3 separate regions of the Homo sapiens genome follow, and regions 1 and 2 are each linked to region 3. The links come from fine-mapping of genetic effects on gene expression. A gene starts in region 3. Each other region holds a variant in brackets. All regions are shown on one strand. Distances are between the middles of the regions. Region 1 has its middle 49 kb from the start of SECISBP2. Region 2 overlaps LOC105376137 (a long non-coding RNA gene). Region 3 holds the start of SEMA4D (semaphorin 4D).

Region 1 (8,179 bases), 130 kb after region 3:
CACACACACCTTATACACCCCAGACATAACACACACCCCACACCCCAGACATACACACCACACCCCCCCACACACACCTTATACACCCCAGACATAACACACACCCCACACCCCAGACATACACATACCCCTGACACACACCACACCCCACCCCAGATACCACACACCCCACACCCCGACATACCCCTGACACAGCTCACCCCAGATACACACCCTACCCCAGATACACACCATACCCCAGACACACAACACCCCCCCAACACACACCATCCCAGTCACATGCCACACATCCCAGACACACACCCCACACGCCACATCCCACACACACACGCCCGACACACCGCACCCCAGACACACACCACACCCACACACATGCCACACCCCACACATACACCCCACCCCACACACACATCACACCCCTCACAACCACACCCCACACACACACCACACCCCACAAACTACATAGACTATGCTAGCCACATACCACACACCAGACACACACACCACACATGAGCATGACGTATACCGCACACATGCCATGCACTGTACCCCCCCACACACATCCCAGACACACATACCACACACACTACACAGACCACACAGCAGACATACCACACACCAGCACCACACCCCCTCACACCACATGCCACACACACCACATGCCAGCATCACACACACACCATACCTCCTTCATACACACCACACACACAAACCAGACACACACCTACATACCACACACCACACACCAGCCACACACCACAAACACACCACACACACCACACGCCACGCATATATCAGATACACCACATACGTACAGATACACCACAATATACACCACACGACACATGTACCACAACACACACACACGACATAACACGCACACACATCACAAACACAATCATGTCCACCACACAACACACACACCATGTGCATGCACACAATAAATGCACAGCACAAAACATCACATACACCAAATCACACACACCACACACACATCAAACACCATACACACAGACCATGCATACTCACTGCACATGTGCACACATACCAACACACACCACACACACACACTGTACACACACCTAAAACCACCCCCATACACACCATACCAAACACAACCACTCACACATGCACCACACACAGCACAGCATACAACACACATCACACACACACCAATCATACCACTGTTACACACACACCACCACACATACTGCACACACCAAAGCACATACACACCACATAGACACATGCACGCTACCCACACCACACCAATCACATCCACACATACACAACCATACACACACACACACACATTGTTGACTTAGGATCGTTTCAACTCACAGTGGGTTTATTGGGATGCAGCCCCGTGGCAAGTGGAGCAGCATGTGTATTGACAAGGGGAGGAAAGCCGTCTGGAGCTGGTGAAGTAAAGTTAGCATGCAGCCGAGCTCTGCTCGTCTGAACTGATGAACCCAAGTTCCTCATGGATCACTCAGAATACAGATGGGTGAAAAAATAACCCCACCACCCGTGTGCCAGCACATAGCGCATCTGGCATACAAACGTAAGGATCAATAGCGATGAATGGCGATGGGTTGTGTCTACATGCAGATACAAATCATGCACTTGTACATTAGTGTGCACACACAGAAACAGATCGATATAATTTTTTAACCAAAGTGCAGTCTTTACCCTGTCAGGGCCCTGCCTTCACCTCTGCCAGGACTATCTTCCATGTCAAGTTTAGACCCGTGTCATTTTCAAAGCTAATAATGGTTCCCCCATACTTTAGGCAGCATTTAGATATTTGGATTTGGGATGGCCTTTTATGTTTTAACTACAGTGTTAGAAATCAGAGCCCTTGGAACCACTGGGATCAGAGGGCAGCAGCAGAAGGCGCCCTTGGTCCTCTTTGAGGGGCCCAGGGCTCTGGAGAGGGCCCCCGTTCCTAGCAGCCACAGTGGCCTGTTGGCACGCATGTGTGTGTTCCAGCTGCTCTGTGACATTTCCCTTTGTTTCAGACTCTTGAAAGGCCACGGCCGTCGTGGGAATTAGTTGACCTTGTGTGTTGGGCCACCCTTGCTGGACAGGACAAGGTGGTGCTATCAACTCCCTGTGCTCTGAGGTCCTTCGCATGTTAGATGAGGCAGCTTCACCAGAAACTATCCATGTCTCTTCTGTTATCTGGGATAATTCCACGTGCCTTTACAACACAGCTGTCTGGTTACCTGGGGTCTGGAAATGCCCTCGGTGCCTCAGTGGTGCCTTCCCACAGGCCCCCCATGGAGCCAGGCGATGCCTACAGATGCCTCAGTGGTACTTTCTCAGGTCCCTTTGCAGAGAAGAGGTTCAGGATTCCTGCCCACATTGATAAGGCGGCTTGGCCAGTAAGTGGCAGGCATGAACAGGTGCATTCCAGAAGCGCTGGGGCTGGTCCAGTGCCCTGAGTGGTCTAGAGCATACCAGAGTGAAACGTTAGGCTGCGTCGGCCTGGTGACTGTCAGGGAGATGAGGACTCAGAGAAGGGAGCTGTCAGAATTGCTACCTATGTGGCAGGGGTCTCACTCTCTCCTCCCTCCTCTTGGGGCCCCTGGCTACTCTGTGACTTCAACAGAGGACAGAAAGGATGACCAACAAGGCCTCAGGGCATACCCCCAGCTGCACTGTCCTTGTCCCCAGAAGGGTCCCCAGAGTCTGGGAGGGAGGAGGGGCCATGGCCAGGATTAGAAAAGACCGTGCCCCAAGGAGAGAGCACAGAGATGGGCCAGGGAAGCAGTGGGATCCTCGGGAAAAGAGGCTGGGAGCAGGTGTCCGGGTGAGGCCCGGGCAGCGGGTACAGGCAGGGACAAGCCAGGAGTCCCATCATGGAAGACATGATGGCCAGCGGCCAGCACTGTGTGCAGAGAATGGCCCCTCTGGGGATGTGCCCGCTGCCCCATTAGTTGCAGGAAGGCCACCTGGATGTGAGTTTGGGAGATGGGCTGGCCCCGAGGCAGCCAGCCCTGAGGTCAGAGTGGGCCACATGCATGGGGATGCCGGGAGGACACAGAGGAGTGCTGCAGGAGATGGCAGTGGGGGCACTTTCCAGGATGGGCCCGAGCAACTCAGTCACTGGGTGGATGTCTCACCACCCCTCCAGGCCTTCCTCAGGGCGAGGCCACTGCCCAGAGGGCACCTGGTTTGTCGCAGAGTAGAATCAGCTCCATATTTTGTAATCACATCCACGAAGCTCTGAAGCCATGGTGGTCCTGGCACCAGCTGGCTCCGTTAGAGGCTTGGGGTGGGAGTGAGCAGGTGGGAGGTGCCCCAGTGACAGGCTGAGTGCTGGAGCCCAGGCTGCCAACAGCCTCCCCAGACTCCTGAGTTGATGTAATAAACCCAGCCCTGGTGAATAAACCTGGCCCTTGCTTATACCAAGGTGATCAGTCTTCTCACGACAGTCCTAGCTGTAGGAGAAAGATCATTACCTACGGCATCTGCCACAGCAGTTAATTTGCCTTCAACTTAAGCTAGTTGCAGTGACAGGAAGGGCCAGGGGGAAATATCTGTCCTCAGGACCTCTACCCTAGATCCTTGTAAGCCACAACAACTTCCCTTCTTTGAGGGCGCGACCAGTGTCACCTGGCTCGCCACTGGGAAGAGCCAAGGCACATCCAGGTTGGTGGCTGCTGAGCCCCACAGCATCAGACCAGCCTCTTGTCCCCACCCCACAGAGGCCAAGGGGGTGATCTGGGAGTAGCACCCCAGCCTGGCCGCTCTCTTGAGGTAACAGGGTTGGATGGTTAGGGAGCTTGGAGCACTGGCCCAAGCAAGAAAACAGTGGTGTTTTCAGGAGGCCCTGCTGGGAGATGGAAGACAGCTCCCCACTGGGGGCCTAGGATTCCAGGAGCTCCCCAGCAGTCCTCCGTGGGACATACGTGGGTTTGCACCTGCTGCCCTGTCCCGCTGAGGGTGCGGTGCTGATGGGGTGGCCCTGCACACTGATGGTAACTCTCACTTTCCCTCTCTCTCATGCATTCAGAAAGAGATGGATAGTTTAAAAACGAATACATGGAACGTAAGTACTTCTTTAACATCTTTAATGTCTTATGATGATCAAGCATGTATTTAAATAGTATTTACTGATGCCTGTTAGCAGTGGTAAGCACGTGTCTGTTTCTGCTCACACCCCAAGAGTGTAGAGCTTTGAGGGTTTTGCAGTCAGTGGTCCCATGATG[G/A]GGCGTTGGGTGATTAATCCAATCCAGCTTAGGCCACCCAGATTCTTAGTCTCAAGGGCTTGGTCATGAGAACCTTCCAGAGGCTCCTGTGACTCAGTGACTCCAGTCCCCTGGGTGGTTCTTGGTGCAGGTCACATGAGGGAGGAGACCGGGCTTTTATAGAACTCACTTCACTGTCTGTTCAAAGAAAAGTGTTACTTGATCATAACAGCTCAAAAAAATCTGTTTCTTAAAATGAGATTTTACCTGGATGCCCATCAGCTGGGAAAGGGAATATCTATTCCCCAGTTGATGGGCACCTAGATGTACATAGAGACATATGTTTGTACATCTATGTAATATGTACTTATATTTGTAGATAGATACATGGAATTATCTGTGGCCAGAGTCCAAAACATTTTGAGTGGGAAAAAACAAATTATAGAGTGTTAAGTTTTGTTTTTTTTTAAATTCTGCACAAAAACCAAACCTGTTCACAAGGGCTTGTCCACCAGGCCAGGGCCAGATGGGCCGCCAGGCAAAACAGTTTTGGAGCACCTTCTGAATTTCCTTGAGTTTACAGAATGTTTCCTTCAAAGTAACACTTTTATAAAAAATTATTATTATAAAAGCAATGCTTGTTTGTTATAAGTTTGGAAACTCCAGGGAAGTATAAAGAAAAAATTTAAACAATCCCAAATTTAACCATCCAGAGGTAGTTACCACCAGCATCCCAGCCATTTTTGGGCCATGACTATCTACGTTCACACATGTATACATGGGTGTGTACATATATGCACACATTCCTAGATATTGTTTCACTTATTTTTCTGTGTTGCTGAATATTCTTCGATGGCACTTCGAATGAGTGACTTGTGGCCCCCTTCTTGGACATTTCCCAACTCCTCACTGATAGAAACAGGGCTTCACTGGGCCCATCCTTGCCTCGGGACTCATTCCTAGGACTGCCCAGCTAAAGGGTCTGAGCTTGGTCAAGTCCTTGGGAGGAGCATTCTCTGGTGATCCTGGACAGTGGGGAATTGTTGACCAAGAGACCGGACAAAGATGAGCAGATGCCACAGTCAGTAAAGCAGGGAAAATGCATTACTAAAGTCAGCTTCATTAAACTGGCGATCTCTTCTTTTCAAAAGTCCAGCATGTGCCACAGAAATGGAAAGCTCTCTGGCCACTACTGTCCTGCCCAGGGAGGGGAGCGTGGGTCCACCCACACCATTTAATACCTGTAACTGGATGCACCTCTGCCCCTACACCTGAGAACAAGGCCAGTTTTTGTGTGTGCAGGTACTTTGGACTCTTTTGGCTCTGGAATTTGTTTTACCTGCTCAGTGTTCTGAACTCCTTCCTTTTCACTACTAAGCATTCTCCATGAAGCCACACTTCATTTTGTCATTGTGAGGTTGATGGACATCTAGGGCAAATCTAACTTCTAAAGACCAATTCTTACGAGGTGTCATGGTCAAGCAGAGGCCATGGCCGGCACTGGTCTAGGTGGCCCATGGCCCATTTGGGGGCCTTGGTGGGCCTCGAGGAAGGGCAGGTGCTGGTCAGGGAGCCGGGTCGCTAGGCAGCAGGTGGGTGTCACCCCAGTCCACGCTGCTGGGGTGCCTGGCCTGATGCAGGCTGTGCCTGAGGGAGACAGAAGCAGCAGAGTAGGCTGGCCGGCCTCCCCAGCCCCACCACAAGCAGGAGCTTCAGAGACAGAAGGAGCACCTGCACCCCCTCACCTGCCCTCCAGGGCCTGGCCTGGCCCTCCCAGCTCAACTCCAGGGTCTGTACGCTCTGGGGCTGGAGCTTAGTGGGACTGTGGCCCCCCTCAGCCCTTTCTGCATTTGAGTGGAAGCCAGTGTGCGAAGCAGATCAAAATGGATGTGCTTGTTTTTCCTTCAGTAAGAACAGGGAGTTGAGCCTGTCCCAACATGGCCAGCAGCCCCTGGAGGGCCAACAGACTTCACGAGCAAGGAAGGCCGGGAGGTGACCTGCTGACCAGAACTTACTTGTGCCCCTCCCCCCCGCCCAAAACCCCCAACATTCTGGTTTTCACAGCCCCACCCCAGCCACCTGGAACAAATAGTGTCTAGGAGTAGCCCTCAGGGTTGGCCGCGCAGACTTCTTGCCCTGGGATGAGGCTGGCCTCCCCAGGCGAGGCAGCCTGGGCCACAGGGGAACGTCTCTGCCTCGCCCACCCTCCTGATCTCTCCATCAGACAAGCTGAGGCCAGCCAGGCTCCACCCTGGCAGGTTGCAACAGATGGTCTGAGTGTGTGTGAAGTAACTGGCCTCTCTACTTTCTTCAATAAGTAATTAAGATCAAAAGCCCAGAGAAAAACAACAGAGGTTTGCGGCAGAAGTGGCCAATGTCGGGCCCAGAGTCCATGCTCAAGGCTGGAAGCCCATCCTGGATGTGCTGCACTCGGCAGTCCTAGTGTAATTCTGCAGGGCCTGGCCCCTGCCAGGGTCTGAGCTCTCCAGCCTGTGGCATCTACTCCCCTCCAAGCCCACCCCAGTGTCTCAATTGGAGAGACAGGCCCTCATGGTCCCCACTCTGGCCCAGCCCCCTCTGCACACAGCTGGCCGAGCTCTGGGCCTCTCCATGCTGTGGCCCTGGTGATGGCAGAGCCTTGGGATGTCTCTGTCCATGTGGTCACAGGACATGTGTGTGGCAGCAGGGCCATGGTGGGGTGGGATGCTGTTCCAAGGCCCAGAACCATTCTGTAAGAAACCAGCACAGCGCTGCAAGAAAGGGGGTCCTAGGGGACACAGGCCACACAGGTGTGCTTTGAAAAATGGCAATTAAGGTCAAAGAGCAGGAAGTCCACAGGACGGGCCAAGGCCAAGGCTCCCGCTGGCCATGGGGAAGCCACCTCCAGGGCAGTCCCAGGGACTGAATTGGAAGTTGTCCCAAGTCACTTCAGGTCCAACTGGGACAGCAGAGGTAACCCCCCTGCACCCTCATGGGGCAGCTTCTTTGGGTCCTAAATGTGGACTCAGAGGTGGAAACGGTCTGTGTCCCCAGGTCCTGCAGACATTCGCTTTGTCTGGGAGAAGAATGGGCGAGCTCTGGAGACCTGTGTCCCTGTGCAGACCCATGCACTGCCCGATGGCAGGGCCCATGCACTCAGCTGGCTGCAGGACGCCATCAGGGAAAGCGCTGAGTATCGCTGCTCTGTCCTCTCCTCAGCAGGGAACAAGACTTCGAAGGTGCAGGTTGCTGTGATGAGACCTGGTAAGTGATTCCCATGCCCACTGTTACCCTTTTATGAGGTAATTTTTCACTATTTACAATGGCAGTGAAAAAAACAGCTGGAAAGCATGCTTGCACGGTGGCATTCTGGGTTTGGGTTTTATTGGCTTTCCATTGAGAAAGGTGGCCAGTGGGCATCAAGGGTGCCATAAAGGCCCACAGAGCTTTGACCTGGGGACCCTGCTTGTTTTCCAGAAGTGACCCACCAGGAGAGGTGGACCAGAGAGCTCTCTGCCTGGAGGGCTGTGGCTGGGGAGCACGACCGGATGATGCAGAGCTGGAGGAAGGCGTGGGTAAGTGGCCGCAGCCGGGCAAAGAAAGGAGGGCTGGAGCCAGGGGCAGGGCACCTGCCACATCCAGTGGATCTTTCAAGGGCCCCATTCAGCATGGACCCCACTTGTTCCCTCTTAGCCCCGGAGCAGTTTCCTTTATGAAATCTGCAACACTGGGGGGGGAAATCCCACGTCTTGTTGCTGAGACTGCAGGAGATCAAGGGGCATCTGGCCCCAGCCCTTAAAAGAGACTGAAGGGAGGCGAGACTGGGAGGGACTCACAGGTGGGGCTGTCTAGTTAGATGGGCCCCCACGACCACCCCATTCTCTGTACAGAGCACTCAGCCAGCCACTCCTTTGAGGAGGGCAGGAAACCTGGACAGATGGGGAACCCTCCAGGTAGCTCCTGGCTGGATGCCTCACCTGAGGCACCTGTTGGAGGGGTCAGGG
Region 2 (8,179 bases), 35 kb before region 3:
GTGTAATAATACTAGCCAGGAGAGACCAGACTCACTGTGCCTGCAGGCTGGGCCCAACAAACAGGCTCACAGGGCCGTGGAGCAGGGATTGCTTTAAAAGGAGCAGTGTGTACAGGGAGTGGGGATGCTGAGGGTGTTTTTGCACACCTACTACACTCAGGAAAGTGTCTTGTGGGATGAGACAGGAAAATCTAAGACCTCTGCCTCCGAAGAGCTTCACGTCTAGGAGAAGGCAAGGCCCTCAGGCACAAGATAACAGCAGCAACCAACCTGGGCCCAAACTGGCAGCTCCTGGTTACTTGAGGAGTCCCAGCTCCCTTGGGCTCGCAATGGCTGTAGGCGAGGGGCTGCTCCTGTCAGGTCCCTGCAGCTACCTGCACAAGGTCCTGTGCATCTTGGTGCTTGATGTTGGCTGAATTTAGCAAGATAGTCTCATTTGGTTCCAAATGGCCCATCCCTGTTAATGACCACTCCCAGAGGGCTCTGAGACGCCACTACTAACTATGAAATTCATAGTTCAAGGACAAAAACAGGTGTCCATGTGGAACGCTCTGAGCACGAGGGTTGAGAGCCAGTTTCCATCTTGGTCATGAGCCACTGCAATGTTAGGAACCAAGTAAAAAGGTATGCCCAAGTTATTTTTCCTGCCATAGATTATAAATGACATCAGGGCATGGAAACACATTGTGTGCTTTCAGAAGAGCAGGAATTGCATTTTCTTCCCCCTCAACATGATAAATCCCATAATAAAGAACAGCCGGCCCTGAGTAACAGCCTGGAGGAATCTGGTTGCCAGGCATAACCCAACGACATGTGTCTTTCTGGTCTTGATCAAATGTCACTTATTTACAACAAAACTACCCGGGCTTCTCCTGGGCTCTGAAGACAGGAAGCCAAGGGAGCGCCTGGATTATGGCTCAGCACTCTGCAAAGGCCTGTCCTGCCCTTGACATAGCAGCAACTCTAAAGAGCTTTCTCCTGGTTGGGCACCTCACTGGGAACAGTCCCCAGACGCCCTTCCAGCAGGCACACTGAGCCAAAGCAAAGGCCCAGCGGCCATCAGCATCACCTTCCTGCATCAAAGGTCTCGCTGGTCACTTGCTGATGTTCTCTACGGAGACTCCATGAGCCTTCTGAAGCCCATATGGGGAGGCACAGCCTGCAGGGCACTCGGCTTCCAGATTAATTGGAAATCAGGCGCAGAAATGATCACAGAACTGAGATGAGCTCTCCCCACTGTCCTGGGTCAGGGTGGAAAGGCTGCCAGGCTGTACCCTGCCTTCATGGTGGAGGGGCAGTGAAATCAACACAACCCAACCAGAAGAGGAGGCCCGCCACCTACACGCTGGCTGCCTGGGGACAGACAGCTCAAGCCAGTGAGCCTCAGCCTACACACTGATAAGAACAGTTACCAGTTTTCAGAGAACTGTTGAACACATCAGATAAGGTAACTAATAAGGTCCTGGACCATGCATAAGTCAATATACAGTAGACATTTCCCAAACGTCTTTTCTTATATTGCTTTCCTTATTTAAAACATGCATATACACATATGTATATATGTGTGGTTTTACATATATATATATTCATTGTAAGAAAAAAAAAGTAAAAGGCAAACACAGAGAAGCAAAAACAAAAGAGAAAGAAGAGAGAGGAAAAAAAGGAGACCACTTTGTGTTCTCACCTCCCACATCTAACCGTTTCTAGCAAGTTTGTCCACTTCCTTCCTGCCTTTTCTCTGCACATAGACACACCTACATATGTGAGGGGTGATGTGTGCTCCAACTTCCATATTTTCATGTAATATTATGCCATGGATAGCTTTGGATGCCATTACGTCTTACTCTCCAGTGTTACGTTAAATGCCTGTATTTTAAATCCATTTGCTACGGATGCACCCAAGCAACTTAGCTCACACCAGTGCCGGGATCCCCTTTTCTTTTCCTGTTTGTTCACTCTGAGACCCATCTTTCAAAATCACCTTCTATCTGATGAAATCACACTGTGCACTCAGAACTTTACTCAGATGATTGAGTAGTTTGTTTTATTTTGCTTGTGATTTTTTAATTCCTTCTTCTGAAATTGTAACACCAAATGGGATAAATAATAATGTCCTGGAAATTGTATATGGATTCCTCCACAACTGAGAGCACTCTCCTTCCTGCACGCTCGTCAGGCCTGCTTCATGGGGTCCCAAGGATATCTCCCAGACCTGCTATCTCCCACCCTCTCCCCCTTCCTCTTGGCCCCACTTGGGACCTCAGACCTCCTCAGGACCCTGCACTTGTCTTTGGGTTCTTTAAAGTCAATCACTTTATGACATCCTCAGCCCCTGGAGGTGGTGCCCTCCTTCAAGGACTTTCCTTCCTGGTGGCTGAAGGACAATTGGTGCCTCTCCTCACCTGCTGGCCATTTGTGACCCCCCTGGCAGGTGTGGGTGTCCATAGAGCTGAGACAACCAGGGGTCCCTGGGGGCTCAGAGGGTGTGAAGCAGGGCAAGGTCTCGCTGCCATGGGGCACCATGAGCACATCCTATACCTGAGGGCAAGGTGAGGCAAGGCCAGAATGCCAGCGCAGCCCCAAGTGTGCCAGGTGGAACTTGACAGCTGTCAACAGAACAACAGTTGTGCGGAAACTGGGACATTTATCACATTTCCACTTGCCTGACAAGGTAAAGACTGCAATTTTTCATCTAAAAAGGAAATTAGAACTCATTGCCTTGATTAAATATTCTGCACTTATTTACACCCACAACCCCAATAAAACTCAGACACACACAGGGTCCTACACACACACACACACAGCCTTATACACTTGTACACACACAGCCCTAAACACACACCAAACCTACAGCTCTACACACATGCACACACACACAGCCCTACACACACACAGGCCTATACACATACACACACACAGAGTTCTATACACACACACACCACCCTACACACATACACACACAGTCCTACACACACACGCAGCCCTACACACACACGCCTACACACACACACAGAGCCCTACACACATACACACACACAGCCCTACACACATACACACACACAGCCCTACACACACAGCCCTACACACACACACACAGCCCTACACACGCACACACACAGCCCTACACATACACACACAGCCCTACACACATACACACAGCCCTACATACATGTACTCACAGTCTCACACACAGCTTTCCATGCGCAGGTATGTGTGTACACCCTAGAACTGTGTGAGCAGGAGTGTGGTGCGCAAAAGGCAATGGTTTTTCCATCTCCCATGTCCTTTTTAGTGCTGTCCATTTCAGCTGTCATAAATTATGACCTGAGCTAACGCATGCAAAGTTATTAGGTTACCATGTGTTCATATATGTCCTGTGTGAGCCGGAGCCATCCAGCCCCCACAACACAGACACCCCCACACCCTCATCTGCAGGCAGGACTGGCTCTCCGCCCCCTGCTGTCAGCATCTCAGCTCCTTCCGCAGACTCTGGTGCAAGCAAGCAGCTTAATTATTTACAACAGGAGATTCCCGAAAGAGCCATCAATCCTTCCATGGAAAACCTCCACAGACGGCTGGCCCCTGGGAGGCTGCGCATCCCTCACCTCAACTCTTCACCTGGCTGCCCCATCAGCCCAGACAGTGACCCCGTCCTCGCTAAGCCCCACCTCAAATCAGACATAAGGCCCTCATGGACTC[T/C]GCCCTTGCTGCCCCCACCCCACATACTCTGGGCCCCCCTTCCCACATGAGCAGGAAACGCAGCTTTTAGTATCCTGGCAGTGGAGGGTGGAGTGGGGGCAAGATCTGGGGTCTGGCATTCGACCCCTGGATGGAAATCATGAGTGATTCTGATTATTCCTCTATGAGTTTCTTATTTTCTAACTGACAAATATTATTTTTAAAATTATTAAACTACAATGGATAAACATTACTTTATTAATCATAAGACCATCACCTGATGAAAATTAGGCAAGAAAAGGAAATTGAGTTCTGAAAACCATTCGAGAAGAGAGCTAAAAAACAGAGACCAATCTAGCTATCACATCAAAAATAGGACCCAGTTAACTGGTAGAAGGCATTTCTGACAAGCAGCAATGAACGCACAGTGCACAGGGGGTCACATGGCAGCTGGTAAGAATCTCACTGGACTGGGTCACTCCCAAGGCCCACGCTGTCCTCCAAGGCAATTTACATTCCTCTCCATCATCAGCCATGTGGATTTTTCATTAAAACAATGGCTGCTGTTCCTGGATGACCTGTTACAAACCATAATCAATCAACCTCCTCCCTAATGTCACAAACTGCCACCGCATTACACACTCCAGGAGAGATGCCAGGTTTGACTGGCACAGCTCCGGGCAAAGCTATCTGCTTGGCCCAGGAGAATCCTCTCCAGCCCTGCTTGACCCTCTCCTCAAGCCCATCCTTCCCAGCACAGAGCCACAGACACTGAATCAGAGGGACATCAGCCTGCAGCATGCTGTCCCAGACTCCGTGTCTTGCCAACCACCTGAAATATCACCACGATTTTGACTGTCACCATGGCAACTGGAAAGTTCCAGGGAAGTTGGCCCGAAGGCATCTCCCAGGATGCACCCCCAGCCTCCTGATGTGCAGCGCTGTCTCCTATGTCTGTTCAGGCTGAGGACTTGGTGCAGGGCTGAGGATGCCTATGCTGGAGTCCACCAGCCTCGTGGGAAGCAGCGTGCCCTCCTGCTGTGAAGCTGTGGGTGAGTTTCCCTAGGGGTGAAGACTAGATAATGTCCCTATGTCAGGAGTGAGGAGCATGCCTGAGAGACTACAAGAAAGGCTTTGTATTAGTTGGGGTTCTGGAGGGACAGAATCAATAGGATATATGTATATATATATATGGGAGTTTATTAGGGAGAATTGGCTCACACAGTTACAAAGGCCAAGTCCCACGCTGGGCCATCTGCAGGCTGGGTTATGAAAAAAGTCAGTCCAAGTCTGAAGGGCTCAAAACCAGGGAAGCCAACAGTGCAGCCCCCAGTCCTAGGTCAAAGGTCTGAGAGCAACCAGGAGGCTGCTGATGCAAATCCCAGAGTCCAAAGGCCAAAGAACCTGGAGTCTGATGTCCAAGGACAGGAAGAGAAAAAGCCTCCTGCTCAAGAAGAGGGAGAGAGAGAGAGAGAGAGAGGGAGAGTGCTGGATATCCATCCTCCTTCCACCTGCCTTGTCCACCTGTTCACCCCCAGCTGACAGAAGGGCGCCCGTCCACATTGAGAGGGGGTCTTCCTCTCAGTCCTCTGACTCACAGACACACCCAGAAACTGCTTCACCAGCCATCCAGGCATCCCTCAATCCAGTCAAATTGACCCCTTTTAACCATCACAGCCTTCATGCCATCATTGTGAACTGCTGGGCCTGGAGCCATAGTCCGCCCAACACCAGGGTGACTCCATCCCTATGCAGTATGGTGAGGGACAGGGCTACCTGGAAGTGATAAAGCAGCTCTCATCAAACAGGAACTATTGACTCACTGGCACTCCCAGAGCCTTTCAAGCCAGAGAGCCGACGGTGGCAATGACAGAGTGTGGACTGCACCCAGCACTTATGAAGGGGCTGTTGTGTGCTGAACAGAAACCTTGGTCAGGAATTCCAATTATAAATGGCAACCTTTGTCACTAGCATCATTACAAGCCATCCTTGTTCCACTGGAGTTCTCGTTGCACATGGAGCTGGGCAGCTGCATTCCCCTGCACAACACAAGAGGCAGGTGGGCCAAGACCCCAGCCACTCAGCTGGAAGATTCTCTCCCATCTTGCATATTGCCACATGGATAGCTCAGAGAGGTGGCATTGTCCTTCCCATTCTGCAGACTACAAAACTAAGTCTCAGAGAGCTCAGGCAGCTCTCAGGTCACTAGATAGCAGAACTCAGATTCAAAGCCCTTGTCATTAGTGTTGTTGAATAAAATACGGACAGCCTAGTTAAATTTGCATTTCAGATAAACAGCAAATAAACTTTAGTATAACTATATCCCCAATATTGCATAGGAGAATATTTTTGTTGGCTAAGCCTGGCAACCCTGTTGCAACTGATGTGTGCTCTCATCACACGGAAAGCAGGTGGCCACTCATAGGCTAGGATGCCCATGCTGGTTGCTGGCTGGGGCTGAGCCATGGAGATGTGGAGGCCCCAAATCCTGGCCATTTTCAGGCCATCTGCACCACCGTGGAAAATCTGCCGGCTCTGGGAGAGATGGTGCTTAGCAGAGAGGCTGTGAGCCTGCCACATGAATGGCCACCCCTTCTGGGCACCAGGTCCTGCTGTACTCCAAGTGGGGACCATGGAAGCAGTTCACGATCCCTGCAAGGACTCCAGGCCCCAGAGGGATGCAGGCTGACTCTCACCACTCAGGAACAGTGCTGTTCTCATAGCTAAATTGGAGGATGATTCTTCTTCTGACTCAAGTCTGGTCCAAGCATGTTCACACACCTAAGCCCACCATGTCCAGCAGAAAGCATGACCCCAGAGATAAATGGGATTGAACCCCTGGCTCTGTGTGCACCCCTTTTTGTCTTTCAGGCCCTGACAGTAGAAGCTTCCTGGACCCATGAGGGAAGGATGGCACCCAGCTAGGAGCAGAGATTCACCCAGGGGCCCCCAGAGTTGCTTTTCTTGTTTCATGGATTCCTGGTTCAGTTCTATTCCTGGCAGGATAAAGTGTTTTTTCCTTTGGTGTTTTTTTTTTTTTTTTTTTGAGATGGAGTCTTGCTCAGTCACCCAGGCTGGAGTGCAATGGTGCGATCTCAGCTCACTGCAACCTCTGCTCCTGGGTTCAAGCCATTCTCCTGTCTTAGCCTCCTGAGTAGCTGGGATTACAGGCACCTGCCATCAAGCCCAGCTAATTTTTTGTATTTTTTTAGAGACGGGGTTTCATCATGTTTAGGAGGTTGGTCAGAGTGGTGGGAGAAACTATAGGGAAAGGAGCAGGCCTTCTGAAAGGTCAGAAGGCTCTGCATAGTTTCGGGGGAGAATAGCTGAAGACAGCTGTTCTCTAACCCTGAGGCAGAGGGCAAGGAGTAGGTACAAGGGATTGTAGGGAAATTTATCTTAAACAGGCTTGTTTACTTATGTTGGCCAGGAGCTGACCTGTGATCATCCGCCATAAGTTCCATAAGTTCCCTGAAAGGGGAACAATAAATGTTAATTACCCACAGATTGTGTATTGCTTCAGGCTTTTAGCATTGTGCCTGCACTCAATAAAAGCAAGCAGCTCCAGCTTCTCGAGGATGCTGTACTTTGGCCACTAGAGCCTGGAAGTCCCCTAGCTGCTCTTCCACTGCATACCTGTGTCTGAGTACCCCGTTCATCCGTCGATTGGCCAGGGTCTGTGGGACAGACCCGGCAAGCATATTGGCTATGCTGGTCTTGAACTCCTGACCTCAGGTGATCTGCCTGCCTCAGCCTCCCAAAGTGCTGGGATTACAGGCATGAGCCACTGTGCCCGGCCCAGATAAAGTCTTTAAGAGCAGTTATTGGAAGTTTTTCATTGTGTTGCCTGCTAATGAGAAAACTTCCATTCCACAAAGACCTCCAAGCATAGAGATTAGTAGACAAAAAGCTAACTCTCCAGGACAATCTGTTCGGCACAGAAAAGTGCATAGAGCTGGCTTTCAGGGCCAGTGATACAGGAATGGCCTCACCGGCTGCTTCTCAAGCACTATGTGACTGTAGCTGCCCTCAACCTGTGCTCTGGAGGAGGTGATAAAGGGCAGTTGTCTCTGTGGACCAGCAAGAAATTAGACAGTTATCCACCTGGTCATTCAACCTAACACCTGAGACAGAATAGTCACCCAAACAGGGCATCTCATTTTCTGAACTACATCACTGTTAATTGTAAAAAGTCAATATACATATATCTATGCAAATTTATTATATACACATAACTACTGTATGTATTATACACATTACAAAACATACACCAAAACTTTTAAAAGATAAGATAAACCTGAAAGACTATTTCCAAATGTTCTGCTAAAAATGCTAGCTTAACTATTTACAATAGCCAAGAGATGAAATCAACCTGTGTCCATCAAGGACACATAGGATAGAGAAAACATGGTGCATATCCACAATGGGATGCTATTCAGTCATGAAAAAAGAATGAGATCCTGTCATTTGCAGCAACATGGATGAGCCTGGAGGATGTTAT
Region 3 (8,148 bases):
GAAGCATTTCCTTCGGGTGTACATGCAGGCAACAAACACAGCCACATCAGCAGTATGTAAGGACTTCTCAGCAGAAATCACAGCGATTCTCACATCACATCATGCTCGTTACAGACTTTAAAATATCGGCTGACTTATCATGACTTGGAAACTACAGCTATCAGATCTGCCGCCAGAGCATATTATTAAAAAAGAAGCAAGTAGATCACATTTTAAAGTATTTTGGTAGCTGGATTTCAGTATAATTCATTTCCTTTTGAATCCTGTATTTGACTTTATGCATTTAAACACATTACTCTGAAAAGAGTTCTGTAGACCTCACCACTCTGTGAAGTTCAAAATGTAGACCAGAGAAGAAAGAAAACTATCAACAAACAATTATAATGGAAGCTGGTGCAGGCACCAAGGAAGTGACGTGTAAGGTGACATTCGAGCTGAGGAGCAGGGTGGGGGATATTAGCTCTGCCCAGGGTGCATGGGTTTGTGTTGGAGGAAATGATGCCAGGGCAGAGCCTTGACACATAAGTGGGTGTCTGCCAGCCAGCCAGGGATGCGAAGAGGTCCATGGTCTGGCAGTTGGTGACAGCAGTCACCTTAAAGGTCAGAAAGGCATTGCTGGGGCAAGTTCACTTGCTGGGGCAAGTCTAATCCAGCAGACACCAGCACTGATTAGATCAATGGTCAGATGGGGCCACATCAGCATCCTGTACACTCCCCAGTATGACGAAGGATGGCTTGGTAAACCATTCTGCATGTTCAGTGATGTGGGAAGTGCTGCCATGAGTGTGTGCACCAAAAATGGATTACACCCCTTCACCAGATTTATCTAGCACTTAGTGGTTTGACAGTTGAACGCTGTGCAGGAGCACAGAGCAATGATAACATCTCAGCACGGCCTTCATTTCTATGCTTCTGCTGGTGTGACCCCACGTTTCCAAGTGTGGCTTTAACAAAAAGAGCTCTGTGGGTCCTGTGGGGGTCTCAGTGGCAGTAAGGACATATGAGGGTGCTAGAGGTGCCTGGGGATCTCAGAGCCTTCAAAATCCCTTTCGGCTTCCTTCATTGACATGTTCTAACAATCAGGGTGCCTGACAGAGACCGGTGTGGACTCTCTATTTTGGAGAGGCTGGCCAGGAAGGCCACACTCTTACCAGCCTTTTCTGGGGTGCGGGGAGGAACAGAGCTAGGAGTAGGAGTCACAGCATGGTCTTGGCAGCCACTGCATGGTAACAGTGGAGGTGTGGCTCACCCACGTCTCTGCAGAGTGTGGTCACATTCAAAGGACATCTCCCCGGACTTTTCTAGAAGCTGCTGGCAGGTCCCAGAGCCAACCTTCCCACAGTCCCTCAGAGGACCCCGTTTCTCCACTTGCTGTGCTGACTCTCTCTCTAAGCTTAGCCTGGACACTCTGCATGCCACTACAGGTGAGAGGCGGCAGGCCGACTCTTTCTGAAGACACCTCCTCCACTGCGTAAGGCTCCACACTGGGCGATCTGGAAACGGCTCCCAGCCCACTACGTGCCTGTTCCCTCCTGCACTGCAAAGTGGAAGCAGAGGATCCTCTCTCCTCATATCCACCTGGGCCGTGTTGGAAGCTGAGTATTATTTGTGCTGCCATACTTGAGTTTTTTTCTCATATGGGACTTAACTATTATCAATCCAGTTACTATGCTCATATGCATATAGATGGTGTCAACATTCTGGCTGGGAAATGCAGAGAAACTTTGCAAAGCATGGTCTCAGTATCCAAACACTTGGCATTTCTGGGGAAACTAGGAAATAGATTGGTTAATATGATCTTTGATATGCTTGAACTTAATATTGGAGGGGAAAGTAAGGGGGTGAGAGGTAAGGCAAGATTGGAGTTCATTTAGCTACTTTTATTTTTATTTTTTGAGACTGAGTTTTGCTCTGTCGCCCAAGCTGGAGTGCAGTGGTATATGATCTTGGCTCACTGCAACCTCCGCCTCCCGGGTTCAAGTGATTCTCCTGCCTCAGCCTCCTGAGTAGCTGGGATTACAGGTTTGTGCCACCATGCCCACCTAATTTTTGTATTTTTAGTAGAGACGGGGTTTCACCATGTTGGCAAGGCTGGTCTCGAACTCCTGACCTCAGGTGATCCGCCTGCCTCAGCCTCCCAAAGTGTTGGGATTACAGGCGTGAGCCACTGCACCCAGCCTGCTACTTTTATATCTATGTTTGAAATGTCCCACGACAGAGTGTGAAACAAGAATAAAAAGGCAAGCTTGGTCACTTTGGGAGACATAGGCAATCATGCTGAGAGAAGGGAACAGGGAAGAAGGTCAGAGAGGAGGGAAGAGGAAGACCTAATAATGGCATCCAAGTCCCGGTTCTAATGGTACTTGGGGCATCTTTGGATGCAAGTGAGCCAATAGTATGGGCTGAAGTTCTATCACTTACAACTAAGAGTCCTGTCTCCTTCATGAATGCAATAAACATGTTTGGGGGCAATTTTATATAAGCACGGTGCAAAGAAGCCCTTGTGTTCGCAGCCTGGGCATTGCGGAAAGCTTTTTGGAGTTTTTACTGAATTCTCTCATGTTCTTCTGTATGCATTAGGAAACAGGCTAGAGAGGACAGTATTCTGGAAGGTCATGATGCCAGAAGTGTGGGCCCCAGGACAGCCATGCAAAGTCTCTTCTTTGCCCTGGGCTGCCCTCTATTAGATTCTGAGCATGTGGGTCTAAAAGCCAGGAGAGAATTCAGCAGTTGTTGAGAAGCATACCCCTCTGCTGCTGGTCCCCTCCCTGCAGTGTGTTCCCAAGGTGGCCCCAGGCCTGTCTAGACGCTGGCTGTGAAGGGCACGCTCCTGTAGGGGCAGCCGGCTCTTCCACAGTGAGGTCTGTCAGAAAGCGCCCACGATAGGCAGGAATCCACTTTCTCATCTAATTTCCACCCATCTGTCCTCATTCTGCCCTTCATAACACCACAGAGTAATCCTTCTTCCCGGGACAGTTTTGCACATATTGGGGTTCTTCTGTCTTGTGCTCCACACATTGATTTTCTAGGCTGAAGACTCCCGGTGGGTCAACTCCCCTCCCACGGGATACTGCTGGCTGCCTTAGACACCAAGCAAGGGCATGGTATTCTAGATGTGTCTGACTAGTGAGGAATAAAAGAGAGTCCCCCCACCCCACCCCAATCAGTGCAATGCTTGCATGTGTAGATCCTAAGCGTGCATCCCTCCTTGGGTATAGAATGCTGTTAAACCAGTTCTGTCCTAATCCGTTCCCATTATGTTTCAATCCAAATGGGATGTGGAACATGGATTCATGGACCCCTACAATTGGAAAAGAGCTTGGAAAAGACTTCTCTAGTTTTTCCTGTAATAGTCACCAGCACTGAACCCGAGCACACGGTGCAGTGGGCTTTACCTGCCATTCTCTCTCCGTGCTCCCCAAACCCTCCAGGACGACCACACTGTCCTCATGTTGCAGGGTACAGAGGTTTGCTGAGGCCTGAGGTTATTTGGAAACTGCAGAGCTGTGAGTCAAGGGAGTCTATCAGATTCCAGGTCTGGATTCTTCAGCAAGAGGGTGGTGGCTGCCATGCCGTAGAGGGAGGAGGGGGTGCGTGCTCCACCCCACCCTGCTTGACACCAGCTTTGCCATCTTAGCCTTTGCTGGGCCGAAGCCCTATTCTCAGAGCTCCGGCACTGAACCACAGAAACCACAGGAGGCCCTAGAACGGAACTCTGAGACTGTTGGGCCTTTAACTCTGTGACTGTTGGGCCTGGGACTGGCTTCATTTGTAAACTCTGGCTCTCAGAGCCAGTGCTCAGCAGGAAAACAGCCTCAGGGCCCCTGCCCCTCAACAGCAGTCTGTAGTCCAGGGAGGTATCACCTGGCCTGGAGAGGGGCTCCCCAACTCCTCACATTTAGGGGAAATCTTAGCTGGTTCCGTAAGAAACTGTGTCCCCTTCTCAGGACTGTGTTCCTCAATAGGCCTCCCAGCCTGGCCAGTCACTGTGCGAGCCCTGTCACCTCTCCTGGGGGCAGAGGGAAGAGGTCTGGATGGAGCAGCACCATCTCTGAGGGCCCCCAGATCCCCAAACCCATGGGCTAGTCACAAACAAGTCTCACCAGCAGCCTCACAGGAGGACCATTTGCCATACAGAGTGGAAAATGATGAACGTTTGGCAAAAGGCTAGCACGGGGGTTCAGGGAAACCAAGACTCCAGGTGGTGCCAGCCCCTCCCCTGGGGAATGGGAGCAGCCTGGTGTGAAATATTCTTGCCCAAAGTCAGCAGCCAAGTGTTCTGGGTGCCACGTGCCTCACGCACACTGCAGGTCAGGTTCTCAGAAGAGCTGGCCCAGGGTCTGGGGGTGAAAAAAAACTGGGGGATTTGGGGGAGGCCTGGAAAGGGTGGGGTTCATCCAGGACCCCAGAAGGGGCAAGCTTGTCTATTGAGAGCTGGTGAGGAAGAGGGTGACAGGGCACCTCTTGGTCCTGGGAACGGGTGCTTGACTCAGCAGAGACCAACCCAGGGCTGAGGGACAACCCTCTGGGCCTGGCGGGGAGGCAAGAGAGATGGGAGGTGAGGAGGAAGGAGTGGGGAGCAAAAGTGGGGAGAAGGGGAGAGAGGTGGAAGAGTGTTGCGAAGGTGAAGAAAGAGGAGGAAAAAGAGAAGGGAGGAAAAGAAAGGTTGGGGGAGGGAAAGGAGGGAGGTGAGCAGGGGCGAGGAGGAGGGAGGAGGAAGGAGGAAGAAAGGGGCGGGGCCATAGGAGGGAAGAGAAGAAGGGGGAGAGGAAGGGGAAGGGAAAGGGGAGGAGGCGGGAAGGGAGGGGGAGCGGAGGAGGGGCCTGCGCGCCCGCCCCGCGCACTCCGTCCCCGCGCCGGCCTCAGCGCTCTCGCGCGCCGCAGCATCCCAGCCGCCGCTGCCGCCGCCGGGCCTCCCCGCCACCCCCTCCCCGGCCCGGCCGCCTCCCGCCGCTGCCGCCGCCGCCGCCGCCGCCATTCCTGGCGCCCGAACTCGCCCGGCCGGGAGCCGCCGCGGGCAGGACGCGCGCTGCAGGTAAGCGGCCGGGCTGGCGCGGGAGGGAGGGCGCGCGGGGCCGGGCAGGTGCGCTGGGGGCGGCCTGGACCCTCCGCGGAGCCCCCACTCCACACCCCTAGGCTCCTCACCGGACCCTCGGGGCCCTCCCCGAACCCCTGCAGGAGCCTCCTTCTGGGATCCCCGGACCCCTGGACTCCTTCCTGGATCCCCCCGGGGCCCCTCCTGGGACGCCTCCCAGAGACACCTACCCGGACCCCTCCGACCCCCTGGACCTCTCTGCTATCCCTCCCCGGCCTTCTCCCCTTCCCGGTTGCCTCCCCAGTCCCTGCGCGCAGGTGGCTCCTCTGGGCGCGGGGGAGCGGGGGCGCGCTGCATACCCGGGCCAGGGAGGGGGCGGTGCGCTCGGCCAGGCCCCGTCGCGCCCCGGCCCGCCCAGTCCGGCCCCGCCAGGTCAGGCCCCACTCCGGCCAGCCGGGCTCTGGCCGGGCCCCCGCGGGCTTCTATTTTGGTCGCGGAGGCCGCGGACCCTGTGCACTGGACCCGGCGCCGCGCACTCAGACAGGTGGGGCAGGTTGGGCCGCAGTGGTCAGGTCGCCGCCTTGGCAGTGAGTGCTGCAGGCCTCGGTTTCCTTTCGGGTTTTGGTTGCATTATTCTAGAACAGCCCAGGAGAACCACAAGCCTTAGCTTGGGCTGCACCTGTTGCAGCCGCCTAGTGAGCTGCAAGGGGCTGGCTCTACTGGGGTTATGCCAGTAAAAACGTGTAAAGGAGAGTTGAACTCGTGGTTGTCCTCTATTTTCTGGCTTAGTATTTTGGGGGGTAGGTGGGAGAGTGGGTGAATGGGAGTCTGTAAGTGGGCAGTTTGCGTCAAATGAGGCCTGGTGTCGAGGGCTGGGTCCTGCTTTCCGGAAGGTTTTCCACATGAAGTTGCTTTGCTTTTGTTTTGAAAACCTCACTCTGTGTTGAGCACATCCCAGGCTCGTGGGTGGCCAGGCCCCCGAAGGCCAAGCTGGACGTGGGGCCTGGGGCCAAGCATCTCACCCTGCTGTTCTGAGTCTTTTCAAATCCACCAGGCGCCACGGAACGGAAGTTTCCTTTCCTGGGGGTGACGTGACACCAGTGGCCTGTCACCTCATATGTGTCCTAGGCCTGGGGCCTGCCTGCTGGCTGCCCAGGCGAGGTTATTTGGGAATGTTTACTGTGTCCCAGAAACAGGCAGCTCTGGCCAGTGCAGGGGCAGGATTCTGGTAGAGATGATAATGCCCTGATTGTCATTTTGACAGTTGGTGTCTGCGTATATCATGTCTTGGTAGTCGTCAGCCAGAAGAAGAAAGCAGGCGGGCTCAGCATACCCACCAGGGAGGCTGGGGTGGGAAGATGAGGGATGCACTGGCCTGTTTCTGTGAGCAAAGACTGCCCTCCCATAAGGCCAGACCTTCAGACTGAGAAGAGTGTACGTGGTACACTCAGCGAGTCAAACAAAGAAATAGAAACACATCACTGGTGCCAGGAGCAGCCCTGGGGTCCCAGGAGGGTGGGCCGCTTAGGAGTTGGTAGACGGTGGAACTCAGTGGCTGTATTTCAGAGTGCAGACAGGCAAAAGGCCACCGTGGGGATGCAGAGCCCCAGCTGCCATGCCAGCCCAAGGTCTTGCAGCACAGCACAAGGGAGGGACTCCATGGGAGGGGGCCCACCTCCTGAGAAGCACACCCAGAGTCTGTTGAAAATGCAGCCTTGCACAGACCCCCCTGAGTGCCTGGGGTCCTGGGCTGAGGTTTAGAGTGCAAGACCAGCGACCATGTTGCATTTGATATCCAGTGGGTCTGGGGCCAGGGAGATGTCCTTGGTGACATCATCCACTTGTGGACAGTCCTCTCCATGTGGACCGCTGGAGGCAGATGTTACCTAGAGCCGCTTTCCCCACACCAAGCGGGTGTGTCTAGGCCAAAGCTTGGGAGTGCACGCTAATGGCCAGCTTTGACTGAGGAGGGAGGGAACGTCCGCTGCTGACAGCACAACAGCAAAATCAATAATGCATTGCAAAGATCAATGGTTTTCTCTATCTTCTGTGCTTCTGCATTGAGGCTGTTCAGGCTTCTGCCTCTCTTGGTTCCATTTCTGTTGGGGAGGGAGGGATGGGCGGGTCCAGGAGGGTGGTTGCAGATTCTCCTCCTGACCCCTGGAGCCAGAGCTCCAGGGTTGGAGCTAGGACCCATGGGGATGAAACTTGCCACGTGAAAATATAGAAATAAACGTGCCGTCGGCTGATTGTCGAGCCTAGTTGCTGAGAGAAAGGCTGCTGCCTGCTGTTCCCAACCAGGGCAGTTATTTCTTCTTTGAACTTGGACAATTCCAGGAAGAAGACTAGAAGGTGAGAAGGGAGGTGGCAGAGGCAGCTGGGGTGGGTCCTCTCTTCCCTGGGCCAGGGTCCGCCCTGGGCTTGGCAGGTGCAGTTCCTCAGCCCTGCCCATTGCATCCCCATCCCCATCACCATTGCCGTCCAGGGTCCAGGGCTGCTGGAGGAGATAGCTGCTGATTCAGTCAGGTGGAGAGGGTGTGCCAGGGCCTTCCCTGGAAGCTGGGTGGTGTTTTAGGTGCACTAGTTAAGGCGATCCTTGGGATAAGCAAATTGCTTTGCTGCTTGTGGGTCACTTTTCAGCTTCTGTGACCCTCCCTGAGCGAATTTGCCTTTAGCTGGGGGTGTCACAGCAGGGGCCCCAGCTTTCTACTGCCTTGCTGCTTCCCCTGGGGCATCAGCAGCCGCCTTCCCACAGCACCTGTGCAAACCTCAGTGGGGGGCAGGCAGGGTCCTGTTATTTGGTCCAGAAGTTTCAGATGCTGCCCATGAAAGCAATGACTGCATCCCTGCCCTGGATCACATCTAAGTGGCACCCCAAGATTTCTGGCTTCGATCAAAGCCTGATCCAGGCTGTCACTTGGATCAGCATTTGATCCAAGCATCACTCCTTTGAAAACTAGGCTATTGATGTGTCTCATGGACATTTGTGGAGTGAATGATGATTTTAAGGAATTCCTTAATCACAGCATCGTGGTTATGTTAGAATAACTTTCACCCTTTAGCAATAGATACTGAGTGTTGGTAGATGAAATGATGTTTGGGATCTGCCTCAG

Evidence for each region. PIP is the estimated chance that this variant, and not a neighbour inherited with it, causes the effect. A credible set is the group of variants that fine-mapping cannot tell apart.
Region 1: its variant is the best candidate, but not a certain one, in a credible set for the expression of SEMA4D in tibial artery (GTEx, PIP 0.62).
Region 2: its variant is the best candidate, but not a certain one, in a credible set for the expression of SEMA4D in whole blood (TOPMed, PIP 0.58).

What each region holds. Positions count from the first base shown.
Region 1 is chr9:89,363,001-89,371,179 of GRCh38, reverse strand. It overlaps a transcript of SECISBP2 not described here and a transcript of SEMA4D not described here. Among named protein-coding and RNA genes, the nearest start is that of SECISBP2, 49 kb to the right of the region's middle. RefSeq lists enhancers at 6,282-6,782, 6,783-7,283. The variant G/A (reference allele first, on the strand shown) is at 4,218.
Region 2 is chr9:89,529,989-89,538,167 of GRCh38, reverse strand. It overlaps LOC105376137 (a long non-coding RNA gene), which reads right to left. Exons shown (of 3, transcript XR_930102.3): 3 at 6,706-8,179. Among named protein-coding and RNA genes, the nearest start is that of SEMA4D, 36 kb to the right of the region's middle. RefSeq lists enhancers at 1,806-1,975, 2,245-2,414, 5,745-5,914, 5,747-5,916. The variant T/C (reference allele first, on the strand shown) is at 3,700.
Region 3 is chr9:89,494,806-89,502,953 of GRCh38, reverse strand. SEMA4D (semaphorin 4D) reads left to right here and starts at 4,841. Exons shown (of 16, transcript NM_001371194.2): 1 at 4,841-5,035. RefSeq lists silencers at 4,752-4,941, 5,372-5,521.